Linked DNA regions of Homo sapiens. The protein of the gene in region 1 interacts with the protein of each later gene in a pairwise test. Each region holds a gene or a part of one and is shown on either strand. Other genes may lie near its edges. The genes, in order: VMP1 and FGF13.

What was found.
Region 2: the proteins of VMP1 (region 1) and FGF13 interact in a two-hybrid assay, tested with the Homo sapiens proteins (one study listed by BioGRID).

What each region holds. Positions count from the first base shown.
Region 1 is NC_000017.11:59,731,465-59,738,748, forward strand, and holds part of VMP1 (vacuole membrane protein 1), read left to right. Parts: coding exon 1-58; intron 59-3,873; coding exon 3,874-4,009; intron 4,010-5,988; coding exon 5,989-6,079; intron 6,080-7,284. UniProt on the Homo sapiens protein: Phospholipid scramblase involved in lipid homeostasis and membrane dynamics processes. Has phospholipid scramblase activity toward cholesterol and phosphatidylserine, as well as phosphatidylethanolamine and phosphatidylcholine.
Region 2 is NC_000023.11:138,631,669-138,638,952, forward strand, and holds part of FGF13 (fibroblast growth factor 13), read right to left. Parts: intron 3,988-7,284; coding exon 3,789-3,987; intron 1,319-3,788; coding exon 1,182-1,318; 3' UTR 1-1,181. UniProt on the Homo sapiens protein: Microtubule-binding protein which directly binds tubulin and is involved in both polymerization and stabilization of microtubules.

The DNA.
Region 1 (7,284 bases):
AATTGTGACCAGAGACGTGTAGCAATGAACAAGGAACATCATAATGGAAATTTCACAGGTAAATTTTGATGGTTTGCAGGGAGGAGTGCTATGGGTTTAAATGATATACTTTTCATTGGAATAAAATAGAGATATATTACTTCTTTTATTTTTAATCTTATATTATCTTCTTAGTAAATTAAATTATGGGTCAGTCAGGGCCTGTAAGGTGATATTTCACAGTGATGGCAGAAGGAGCCTGGCCACAATCACATAAACAGTGTTCCAAGTACAAGATTATTACTTGTTAATCTTATAGTATGGTCAGTGTTTATTTGGCTTTGCTCAGTGCTCAATTTTATTGTGCTATTTTGTAATTCTAGAAGTAGATTATAAACTTACTACACTGTTCTTAAATATACAGTTATCAAAAAAGTTAGAATGTGAATATTATTTAAAAATTTATTTTAAAATTATCGTTTGAGATGAATAAACTCATATTTTAACCAAATTGGAATTTGTGGTAAATTTCAGTGTATTTGACTCCTGTTTATACAGTTACCCTGAAAATGATGACTTTTATTAATATGGATGATTTAAGTAGAAACTTTCCTTCATGCATTTAAAGGAAAATGAAAAAAAAGTTTTACTTTTGTTGTAATCATACTTTTTTTTTAGCTTTTGAATTGTTTGACATCTCAAACACATGGCAAATAATACTCTAGTGTGGTAATATTTTCACAGCAATCCTCTACTTTTAGAGGAAGTGCAAGGAATCTGAAATAGTAGTTTTCATTTGTTTGTTTGTTTGTTTGCTTTTTGAGACGGAATCTCACTCTGTCACCAGGCTGGAGTGCAATGGTGCGATCTTGGCTCACTGCAACCTCCGCCTCCCAGGTTCAAGCAATTCTGCCTCAGCCTCCCGAGTAGCTGGAATTAAAGGCATGCGCCACCACGCCCAGCCAATTTTTGTATTTTTAGTAGAGATGGGATTTCACCATGTTGGCCAGGGTGGTCTTGAACTCCTGACCTCGGGTGATCCACCCACCTTGGCCTCCCAAAGTGCTGGGATTACAGGCATGAGCCACCGCGCCCGGCCTCATTTGTTTGTTAATCACCATATTGCCTTGCAGAGGACATTTTGCAGCACTGATCTGACTTTTGGGTTACTTTGGTTGTCAGTAAACTTGGCAATTTCACCAAGAGTTTCAGGATTCAGAGATGGGCATTGCATACATCATAGTGTCTTCCCATTAGGAGCTTTTGTGTGCTATTTTTTTCTTTCCTTTTAGAGAGCACATACATTTGTATATTCTTCCTCTTCTGCTCACCCCATTGGAATTTAAAATTAACATTAGCATGTCAAACTTACTCTTCTGTACCAGGTGTTTTTTAATATTTTAGAGATTATGCTATAACTGTACATGAAAAACTGATTCTTAGGCTGGGCGTGGTGATTCACGCCTGTAATCCCAACACTTTGGGAGGCCAAGGCGGAAGGATCTCTTGAGCCCAGGAGTTTGAGACCAGCCAGGACAACACAGGGAAACCTCATCTCTGCAAAAGATTTTAAAAATTTGCTGGATGTGATCGTATGCGCCTGTAGTTCTAGCTAGCTACTCAAGTTCTAGCTAGCTACTGGAAAGACTGAGGTGAGAGTATCGATTTAGCCCACAAGGCTGCAGTGAGCTGCGATCACACCACTGCACTCCAGCCTGGGTGACAGAGCAAGACCCTGTCCCCCAAAAAAAAAAATTTATTCTTTATTATGGCTGCTTAGTTTTTCTTTCCATTGTACGAGTGTGCTGTACTTTAATCACTCTTCTGTCCTCTATTGGTAATATATAAGTTATTGATTATTTTTTGCTAGTACAAATAATGCTGTGGTCAATAAAGTTGTGCAAGTCATTTCACCTTATACCTAATCATTCCTAGAAATGGAATTACCGGTTTACAGTGTATATGCATTTTGTGCTGGGCGTGGTGGCTCACATCTGTAATCCCAGCACTTTGGGAGGCGGAGGTGCGTGGATCACTTGAGGTCAGGAGTTTGAAACCAGCCTGGCCAACATGATGAAACCTCATCTCTACTAAAAATACAAAAAAAAACTAGCCGGGCGTGGTGGCAGATGCCTGTGATCCCAGCTACTCGGGAAGCTCAGGCAGGAGAACCGCTTTAACCAGGGAGGTGGAGGTTGCAGTGAGCCAAAATCATGCTACCACTGCACCCCAGCCTGGGCAACAGAATGAGACCCTGTCTCAAAAAAAACAAAAACAAAAGCATTTTGTAATTTCAATAGATGGTGACAATTAATAGCTAAACTTAATTGGGCACTTACTAAGTGTTAAACTCTTCTGAGAACTTTACATATATGAGCTCATTTAATCCTTAAAATGACCCTGAAAAGTATGTACTATTGTGATCCCCATTTTACAGAAGAGAAAACTGAGTCACAAAAGTATTAACTAACTTGCCCAAGATCACGTGACTAATAGAAGGCAGAGCCAGGATTGGAACCAACTAGTTTGCCTCACCATTTTTGCGATCTAAACCACTTTGTTCTGTAATATGATCCTAGGTTGATAGAATGCCCTTCATAGAAGGTGGACCAATTTAGACTTATTTCAGTAATTTTCCCAAAATCTATAGCTCTATCCCAAATTCAACTGCTGGAATTTTCAGTACCATTTCTTTAGGACATCCTCTACAAAAGATTCTGATGTTTATCAAGGCAGGGAGTTGGTTTTGCCTCAGTTGTTCTCTAGGTAACACTGATTAAGAAATGGCAACTATAATATAGTAGCCCCCTTATCCATGAGGGATACATTCCATGACCCCTAGTGGATATAGGAAAAAACACTGTGTTGTTCTGTATATAGTAATGGGGTAACATATACAACGCGGATGTACTAAACAAAGGGATGAATCAGGTCTTAGGCTGGATGGAGCAGGACTGGCAAGATTTTATTATACTACTCAGAACAGCATACAATATAAAACTTAGGGGCTTGGCTGCAGTAGCTCACACCTGTAATTCCAGCACTTTGGGAGGCCAAGGCGAGCTGATCACTTGAGGTCAGGAGTTTCAGATGAGCCCAGGCAACGTAGTGAGACTGTGTCTCCACAAAAACCAAAAATATTAGTTGGGTGCGGTGGTACACACCTGTAGTCCTAGCTGCTTGGGAGGCTGAGGTGGGAGGATCACTTGACCCCAAGAGTTGGAGTTTAAAGTGAGCTGTGATTATGCCACTGCATTCCAGCTTGGGCAACGGAATGGAGACCCTGTCTCTTAAAAAAATAAAAATAAATTTAAAACAATAAAACTTATGAATTGCTTATTTTCAGAATTTTCCATTTATTATTTTCAGACCATAGTTGACCATGTGTTACTGAAACTGTAGATAAGGGGGAACTACTGTCATTCATCTTCTTTCTATGCTGAGTTGGGACTGGTTGCCTTTTTTTTTTTTTTTTTTTTTTTGAGACAGAGTCTCTTTCATTCTGTTATCCAGGCTGGTCTTCAGTGGCACAATCTCAGTTCACTGCAACCTCTGCCTCCCAGGTTCAAGGGATTCTTGTGCTTCAGCCTCCCGAGTAGCTGGGATTACAGGCGTGTACCACCATGCCCAGCTAATTTTTGTATTATTAGTAGAGACGGAGTTCCACCATGTTGGCCAGGCTGGTCTTGAACTACTGACCTCAAGTGATCTGCCCTCCTCAGCCTCCCAAAGTGCTGAGATTATAGGTACTACTAGTTGCCATTTTTCACAAGACTCTAGGACTTGCTATTAGTTGTTATTTGGGAGATAAAACTCTTTTCATCTAAAGTGATTGAAGAGAATAAGCATAAATGTTAGAAATTCTGTTTTAATCTCTGCACTATTGTTTTTCAGACCCCTCTTCAGTGAATGAAAAGAAGAGGAGGGAGCGGGAAGAAAGGCAGAATATTGTCCTGTGGAGACAGCCGCTCATTACCTTGCAGTATTTTTCTCTGGAAATCCTTGTAATCTTGAAGGAATGGACCTCAAAGTAAAGAGTCTTCTCCCACTACCTTTTACATACACCTCATTTACTCATTTAAAAAATCCTCAGTAATCTCTTACTTTCTGCCCTCTACTCCATCAAAATGGATTAATTACCTTTAGAATATTACCATAGGAACATATTTATTCTCCTTTCTTTAGGTTGAAGAAAAATAGATTAGGGAAAGACATTGCTATTTGCTGTTTGCTTACTGGATTATCACAGTTGTCCACTGTTTTTTCATGTTGAATCTGCAGTGGAGAACACTGAAAAATACGATTTTTATTTTCTCTCCTGATTTTACCATTGGGAGAAATCAGGTCTGTGTAATTTAGATACACTGATTCTTTAGCAGGGCAAGGTTCAGCATATGTGGCAGTTTTACTGATAGTTTGAGCCAATGAAAAAGAACTCTGCCATGGAAATGTGTTGTCTTTAAATTTAGTACTTGTAAGCCCTGTTTCAAGTACCATAAAGAACAAGTTGAACTTTTACATGCCTTATCTTCTGGCATGCCCTTCCAAGTTATTCTCTGTACTATTATCTTAACATTTTTATTGTACTAAGAGTTTATAAAGTATTTTGTAACATTTTCAGCTGATTTTGATCCTTAGGGCAACTCCATAAAGAAGGTAAAACAAGTACATTATTATAAACATTTTAGGCCAGGCGTGGTGGCTCACACCTATAATCCCAGCACTTTGGGAGGTGGGTGGATCATCTGAGGTCAGGAATTCGAGACCTGGCCAACATGGTGAAACCCCGTCTCTACTAAAAATATAAAAATTAGCCGGGCGTGGTGGCATGTGCCTGTAGTCCCAGCTACTCAGGAGGCTGAGGCAGGAGAATCGCTTGAACGTGGGAGGCAGAGGTTGCAGTGAACCGAGATCATGCCACTGCACTCCAGCCTGGGCAACAGAACGATACTCTGTCTCAAAAAAAAAAAAAATTAGCCGGTCGTGGTAGTGCATGCCTGTAATCCCAGCTACTCAGGAAAATCACTTGAACCCAGGAGGTGGAATTTTAGGCCATTTGGGAGGCTGAGGTGGGTGGATCACCTGAGGTCAGGAATTCGAGACCACCCTGGCCAACATGGTGAAACCCCATCTCTACTAAAAATACAAAAATTAGCCGGGCATGGTGGCGTGCGCCTGTAGTCCTAGCAACTTGGGAGGCTGAGGCAGGAGAATAGCTTGAACCCAGGAGGTGGAAGTTGCAGTGAGCCAAGATCATGCCACTGCACTCCAGCCTGGGTGACAGAGCAAGACCCTGTCTCTGAAAAAAAGAAACAAAGCCCGGGCATGGTGGCTCACGGCTGTAATCCCAGCACTTTGAGGGGCCGAGGCAGGCAGATCACTAAGACAGGAGTTCAAGACCAGCCCGGCCAACATAGTGAAACCCCGTCTCTACTAAAAATACAAAAATTAGCCGGGCATGGTGGCACACACCTATAGTCCTAGCAACTTGGGAGGCTGAGGCAGGAGAATAGCTTGAACCCGGGAGGTGGAGCTTGCAGTGAGCTGAGGTCGCACCACTGCACTCCAGCAACAGAGTAAGACTCCATCTCAAAAAAAAATAAAAATAAGTAAATAAAGATTATAAAAACAAGAAACAGAATCAGGTTGGTTAAGTGTCTGGCTGAAAGTGCAACATGAAGGGTCTCTGACCCAGGTCCTCTGACTTGAAGGCCAGTGCTCTTTCTATTATACTATAATGCTTCTCCATATTATAAGTTGAGGTTTAATAAGATCAGGCTTTGGGTAAGGAAAAGGCTACAGTGGGGGTTATGATAAGAACTTGGGTTCTCTGCCTATGTATCTTCCCTTGACCCCCTTCTGTTACTCCAAGAGGCCATGATGTGTAAGGAAAAGAGCTCAGCCCAGCTGAGCTAGGTAACCTAACTGTTTCAGCAAGAAATTGTTCTGAGAATGATGAATGCTGAAAGTGAGACTGTGAGATATTTATTTTTTTTATTTGTTTTTAAGATTATGGCATCGTCAAAGCATTGTGGTGTCTTTTTTACTGCTGCTTGCTGTGCTTATAGCTACGTATTATGTTGAAGGAGTGCATCAACAGGTGAGAGGTCGAGCAATTCTGTTTCTAGTCTTGCACATTCTCTAATTCTCTAATCTCAGTTTCAAATGGGATGAATGTGGGTTTTATAGAATTTCTACCCTCAACATTATCTCATAACTAGTATCTCAAATGTTTTACTTTTAAAGGCATACACTAAAAATATTCTTGTGATGTTTTATGGCTGCTGAGGATTTATATGTGGTGTGTGTGATTCCTTTTACCTTCAAAGATTTTTTTTTTTTTAAAGACAGAGTCTCGCTCTGTCACCCAGGTTGGAGCGCAGTGGTGTGATCTGAGCTCACTGCAACCTCTGCCTCCTGGGTTCAAGCAATTCTCCTGCTGTAGCCTCCCAAGTAGCTGGGATTACAGGCACCTGCCACCACACCCAGCTAATTTTTTTTGTATTTTTGTAGAGATGGGGTTTTGCCATGTTGGCCAGGCTGGTCTCAAACTCCTGACCTCAGGTGATCTGGCTGCCTTGGCCTCCAAAAATGCTGGGATTACAGGCCACTCTGCCTGTAATCAAAGATTTAAATGTAACTTTCCTGAAGGTTTTCCGTCACAGCAGCATGAATCCGTTAATCACTGCCAAAGTTTTCTTATTTTCTCTAACATACTTTTGTGACCCATCCAAATAGGTAGGCCTCTCATCCAAGGTTGATGATTACGTTTTATTTGTATAAAAAGACAGGTTCATTTGCCTGTAGTCTACATGTACAACATTACTGATGGGAAAATAGGATGCTTTGTTAACCTCTTTTGTTAAAATAGCAAAACATTAATGTATTTTAACAGGAAATGGTTCTAGAATGGTATTTTAAAGCAGTTTACTGCCAATCACAGAAATGACTCTAGAATGGTATTTTAAAACAGTTTACTGCCAATCACTGAAATGACTCTAGAATGGTATTTTAAAACAGTTTACTGCTAATCACAGAGAAGTTTTTACAGTTCTAAATGCATTTATTTTAAATATATCTAAAATTATCCTCAAAATTATCTTATTCATAATTTGCTTTTTCCTGTGTCCTGTAAATAGTAGGACTTTAAAAGTTTAGAAACAAGGCTTTTATTAAAGGTTTAGAAATAAGACCTTTATTCCAGTTAGATTAATTTTTTTGTCATCTTTGCCATTGTGTATTAAAGAAATTAGGCCTCTTCAATGGGTTTTTAATCTTATTAGTTTTTTCCTATTTGAAACTTAC
Region 2 (7,284 bases), on another chromosome or scaffold:
AAAACTGCCTGTACATGCTATGTCCACTTTTGGAACACAGATTTTTAACAATTATGAATGCACAAAATCTTACATATCATGCAACTCTATGCCAAGAACCCAACTTTCTTCCATGCAACAGATATGAAGATCTAAATGGAAACCTAGCTAAGTCTTAAACACTTTTCCAGTAGCAAGTATAATATATGTTGTTGAGGGAAAACCAGTCTTAACAATTCCTTGTACACAATATTCATGTGCCAAATACAATGACAGGAAGACTCATACATATACAGATAAGACATTTCTTATTTTAACAACACAAAAGACAACATCACAGTTCCACAGTTCCTGTCTTTACACAAGAAGCCACAACAATAGTTTAACATGATACACAAATGGAATTAAGAGAAATCTACACTTGAGGATAATTTTTTGAAGTTCTCTTTACTGACTGGGGTTGACAATACAACTCAATTTCTACGCACAAAGTACAGCACAATAACTTGACCAGAATACCACAAATCTAAAAAAAAAAAAAAAGAAAGAAAAACAATTGGTCAAACCACAAGAACACTGTTACCTTGAGCCTGAGAAGCCAATTCAGATTCAACCCTGAATTTGGTTGATTTGGATTAAGTGACGCAAAAAGTCAATAGAACCATTGAATTTCAGAAATCATAAAGTTGCACTATGCCAAAGAAAAGAGTACATGTGAATCAAGCGTAGATAGAAAACATCAAGCCAAGAAAACAACACAATTCACATAATTTTGTTTGCCCCGACAAAACATTTAAGCAGTTAATTTTGTTTTGTTTTGTTTTGTTTGTTTTTGAAGAACAATTGTGGTCTTTTACATTTTCTTGGTGGGAGAGCAAATTTTGATCAGCATTAGTGCTGTGAAATACTTTTGGATTATCATCCCCAAAGTATAGGTGAGATCATGAGAAAATTTGGCAGTCCTTCTCTCAGATTTAGTTCACTAAAATGCTTGGCATTCTTATGCACAAGCTCAATCTAAATAATGGGGCTTTAGTATGGATGATAAGAAGGTCTAATGGCAGATAGAATAGTGAACTCTGCCTGTTTGTTTGGTAAATGTCACTGACAAATTTGAACTTTTGGGTGAAGGACTGCTAGAAGAATTCAACAGCACCTGGAGGTAAGGTTCTGTTACAGAGCCCTTCTTTTGCCCTCACTGGCTACGTTGATTCATTGTGGCTCATGGATTTGCCTCCGTTCAGCACGCCAGAGACACTTCTGCTCTTGGTTGGGGTCCCGCTTCCAGATCGGGAGAACTCCGTGAGATCGTGCAGTGATGGCTCCTTGTACATGGCCACTGAAAAGCACACAAAGATGGTGTAAAAGGCCTTCAAATGGGCATACCAATTGTGAAAATTTCTAAGAATAGTTTGTAGGTGTTCTATTCCACACACCTAAATGATAAGTATGTGAGGTAATGCATATGTTAATTAGCTTGATTTAGCTATTCCACAATGTATACATATTTCAAAATACCTTGTTCATAATAAATATATACAATTTTTGTGTCAATTATAAATTAAATTCAGAAAAGGAAAAAGAGAAAAAAAATACATTAAAAAAATGGGCCTACCACACTGGTCCTCAACTTTTCTTTTGGTTACTAGGCTTCTGTGCCTTAAGCCAGACATGAAAAACACTGCTTTCAAGGACTCAGTAGAGAGTGGACAGGTTCAGATTAAGCAAAAATCTAGCCTTGGTGTAGTAGTGTGTAAAGAATTTTAATGCCTAACTTCAACCACATATGGTTATGTAAGAGAGGATTAATAAAAAATGCATTTAATAAACCTCTTAGAAGTTTAAATATGATCTATAGCATACTGTACAAGGCAAATATTAAAATTTAAAATATTTTAAAACACTGATTTCTATCATACTTTAAAATGAAACACTTCAAGAGTCTAAGTATTGGATAATTCTTGGTACAGTAAATGGTAAAATTTATTATTGTGCTATAAATAAACATAATAGCTTATAGTTATGGAACACATAACATTAGATACTACTCTAAGTTCTTTGCATGCATTATCCCATTTAGTCCCTATGAGAATCTTATAAGTACTCTTATCCATATTATACAGATGAACTTGAGGCATACACAGGTAAATAACCTGTTCAAGACCATCCAGTTAGCAAAAAGTGAAGTTGGGCCTTGAATTTAGGTAGTCTGGCTCCAAAAAATGTGCTGTAAAACACAGTGCTGTGCTTATTCGAATTGCACAGTGTCTGCCTCTACTCTAAACCCCTACTCTTACCTCAGGCTAGTAATCTCTTTGAAGTCTTCCTCTGCTTTGCCCGCATTTTCTGTCTCTTCTCTACCATATCTCACTATTTCTTACCTCCCTATCTTCCATAGCCTATTCTTGTCCCTCACCCTTTCTAATTTGCTATTAATCTGCTAATAATGATGGGAAAACTATAAGCAAAATTTGCTGAAATAATATGTTGGGCCCTTAGAGAGGACCCAAGGAGCTTTCTGGTAAGTGTTAAGTGTACACACATTTTTTTTTTCTTTTGTTTTTTGAAACGGAGTCTCACTCTGCCGCCCAGGCTGGAGTCCAGTGGCACGATCTCAGCTCGCTGTAAGCTCCGCCTCCCAGGTTCACGCCATTCTCCGGACCTCGTGATCCGCCCGCCTCGGCCTCCCCAAAGTGCTGGGATTACAGGCGTGAGCCACCGTGCCCGGCTGTGTATACACATTTTTAACACCTATGTTTCTGCCCAGGCAACATTTTAGCATAATTTGGGGATCTTGGCTGTCCTGAGTTAGCATGTAAGTTACTTCCACATAAGTAAAGTGTCACTATATGTACATGCACTATGGAAAAATTAAAATCAGGAGAGCAAATGTTTTTGAGTGTTACAAAATGTAAGTTTTTTAAATAAATGTCTTAATGTGGAACAACTGTTTCATTTTCAAAAGTATTATTAAGGACTGCTTTAAATTACTATTTCTAAATGTTCAACATCACTAATCATCAGGGAAATGCAAATTAAAACCACAATGAGATACCACCTTACTGCTGCAAGAATGGCTATAATTAAAATGTCAAAAAACAACAGATGTTGGCATGGATGTGGTGAAAGGGAACACTTTTACACTGCTGGCGAGAATGTAAATCAGTACAACCACTATGGAAAACAGTATGGAGAATCCTTAAAGAACTAAAAGTAGCATTGGATCCAGCAATCTCACTCCTGGCTAGCTACTGAAAGGAAAATAAGTCATCATATGAAAAACACAACTGCACAGGTATGTTTATAGCAGCGCAATTCACAATGGCCAAAATATGGAACCAACTTAAGTGCCCATCAATCAACGAGTGGATAAAAAAATGTGGTATATATATACACCATGGAATACTACTCAGCCATAAAAAGAAATGATATGATATCTTTTGCAGCAACTTGGATGGAGCTGGACGCCATTATTCGAAGTGAGGTAACTCAGGAATGGAAAGCCAAATATTGTATGTTCTCACTTAAGTGGGAGCTAAGCTATGAAGACATAAAGCATAAGCATGATATAATGGACTTTGGGAACTTGGTTGGGGGGAAGGTTGAGAGTGGGGTGAGGGATAAAACACTACATACTGGGTACAGTGTATACTGCTTGGGTGATGAGTGCACCAAAATTTCAGAAATCACCACTAAATAGCTTGTCTATGTAACCAAAAACCACCTGTACCCCCAAAACTATTGAAATTTAATAAATAAATAAGTATATTTAGTAGCATAATCCATAGTTCCCACAATATCAAATGTACCTTTCAGTGGTTTAGGCAGAAAATGAGCTGCAGGCTTGTTCTTCTTCACATGGTTGCCTTTCATGATCTCTCCTTCTTTGTTCAGACCCAGATACCACCCTCGGCCTGACTGCTGCTGACGGTATATCATTGATGAATATGTCACATAATAATTTTCAAACACTGATTCTTTGAATTTGCACTCAGGTGTGAAAAGTTCCTGCAACAAAAGTAAATAAACAAAAGTTCAGTGTTTATAGCTATGAATTTCCTGTAGAATCATGTGGTATTGCCTTTTAGGAGATTAAGACATACTTTGTAAAAGCTCGTGTGACTGGTGCTCTATTTTAATAGCATAAACTATCATCATTGGAAACCATCAGACTACATATAACATTTCACATGATGCTTTAGAAAAAGTCATAAGTGAAAGTGCTATTGATCAATGATTAGCTCTCTTTGTAATAGGTAATGGGAACATTAGAACAAGCCACATAAGTGAAATATATTGGACAACTACAAGAGCCAAGGATTGAAAAGACAAGCATAAAACTGACACATGGAGCTTTGTTCCCTTCAGGGTTCAATATGAGAAAATAAACATTCGGTCCTTGTACTTAATTTTCATGGATTCTTGAGTTATTATACACTATGGTTGTCAATTGCCTCAGGCTGAAATCTGTGTTACAATGCTTTCTGCCTATATTTCTAAAAGAATGCTACAAAGAAAGCCTACCTTTTACTTTTAGGTAAACCAAATTGATTTTTTTTGGATCATTGGACCTTGACTTGAGACAGAAAGAAAAATTCCCCCCTCACCCCATCCTTGCCTTACAGTAACATTTACATGCAAATCAATACAAAAGCAAGGAATTTACAGCAATTTTACTAGCAGACACGATAGAGCAGCCCAGTGGACTTTGAACTCAGGAATATGGTTTTCTGTCATGCATTTGGCCATTTTTACTTTAGACTGGATTTTTCAAATGAAGGGCTCCTGCCCTCAATAGACCATTTCAAGGAAACAAACAAACAAACAAAAAAACCAACAACAACAAAAAACCTTTTGTGTGTTTGAGTGTACACGTGTCTATGTGTACAATAAACAGCCATTAAAAATGATAATTTCTAAGCTAAATGAAATGAATAGTAGATTTGAATGTATAAGTAATCCATAGAGTAGCAAAGGGCCTACTTGGAGTGGAAGATTATTAGGAAAATGCTAAGTGAGCTACATGTCATAGAGGCACCAATTAAACTATCAGATTTTTGCTAATTTGCTGAGATGTTATCAGGAAAAACACTTGGTACTATCACCAAAAACATGTATACAAACAAATATTGCAAGCTTTCTGGGGCACTAGTCTTTTAAAAACAATGTCTCCATGGTTCTACCTTCCTTTATTTTTCATATTGGATACCATTTTAAGCAATACACACTAGCTGAGCAGCAACATCTGAAGCCCTCTCAGTCACTTCAGCAAAGAGGGATATATTCCTCAGGCAAGGCAGCTTTTCTCTGAAATTTAAGCACTCAAGCAATTTCCTTTCCTTTTTTCTGGGATTCTACAAACAGTGTTTCACACAGTAATCTGCCTAATCTCCCCCCATCTTCCCAATCTGGCTCCCAGAATGCACGAACTGAAGTATCTTTTGGGGTTATTTCAGCCTAGGGGCACACTCGATAGATGTTCAGAGGATTCACACAAATTCAACCTACTCAAGAAGCAATGTACTTCTAAGGCAACTGTCACATGTTAGGAACCAAAATGTTCTATTTATGGGCTGTGAAAACTCCTCTTTGTAGGATTTCTCAACATAGAGAAAGCCAAGAAAGTACCAAGAAATTTGACTAGAAGTCTCCACATTTCCTTTAGTGATGAGGACAAGTACATAGAACGTTGCTGAAATTCTTTGGGAATTAAATCACTGTACGGAAAAAAGTCATCATTGGAGAATGGATTTTCCTTTCATAAAGAATCAAACCATTTTGAAAATATATCTGGTGAAAAATGCATATGATCAAGGCAAATGATACCAAATAGCCACATAAACAATGTATGGCTGACTCCAGAATGGTGAGATGGGATCATTGCATATTCTAAGTCAGGTCCCAAAAATGGGCTGCATTTAATGTCTTGTGTGATAGCAGCATTCATACATTCATTTAATACACATTTTCTAAGGATCCATTATGTAGTTGATCGGTGCTAAATATTCATAGGTAAGTAATATGTGGCTTCAGACAGCTTATCATATATTTGTAGGTATCAAGCATGTACACAAATGTCATAGATACAATGTGTGCTACCATAAGGAAAGAAAGGGAGGCTTACAGGAGGTGCTGTATGAAAACAGAAAAAGCCAGACTTAATTCTGACTGAGGGACTAGGGAGGGATTCACAGAGAGGGTATCATTTTAGCCGAGCTTTTCAATACAGAAAACAGGGAAGAATAATATTTGAAGCACAGGGCCACACTTCCTCTACTTTTCCTGTGTTCCCTGTCTTAGTAACTGGAATCCACCATCCTGGCAGTTGCTCACTTAACACTTCAGAGGGCCTTTCATTTCATTCCTGTGCCCTCTAGTCCGTGATCCATGACCTTCACCTTCCATTCCCAATGCCACTGCTCTACTTTGCGCCTTATTACCTCTTCACTGGACTGCTGTCATAACATCCTAACTGGTTTCTTCTCTTCAGCTGGCAGGTTTGCTTTCCTAAAGCAAAGTTCCCTTCCTTGGGAAATTTTGATGATTTCACCTTGCCTATAGTAAAAACAACAAACAACTTGATGTAACATTTAAAAATTCTCCACAATTCAGTCACTACCATGCCTTCCAGCGTCATCTTCCAGTGTCATTCACCACAGAACCATGTGTGCCTTTGCGCTTTACTGATGCCATTCATTTCCTTTGCTTAGAATGTCATTCCTTTGTTTCTCTACCTACTGGCTTTCCTCTAACCCTCCAAGGCCTAGCTCAAATATGACTGTTTCCAGAATCACATATAATCTCTCCCAATCAGAACTGATTACACCTGTTATCTGTGCTCCCATAAACTCTATCTACATCTCTAGCATGGCCCTGTGACTCATACAACTGTATGATTAGCTCCAGATGGTAGGGAACTTGTCTTATTTTTTCCCCAATCTACCTTCCCCCAACAAAAATGACACGTTAGCACATGGCAGACCGCTTGATTATTGTTTATGTGATTTGAATTTCAGAGATTCAGATTTAAATATTGGAAATTCTAGGACTCAGAATTATCAACTAGTAAAAAGTCTGCAGGGATTTTCCTTAATACCATATCATGAAATCAGCTGTATGTAAAATGAGGCTGTCACTGCATGGACAGATTCTGCAAGTGTAATTTAGTATCTGGCACCTATAACGTGGCACCTATAACATCAGGAGAAAATCTTGGCAATTGTTACAACTATTGAAAAATGGCAAGGAAGGACTCAATGAACTGAATGCTCTGTCACATCCTGGCAATTTCTTAGTCATCACCAC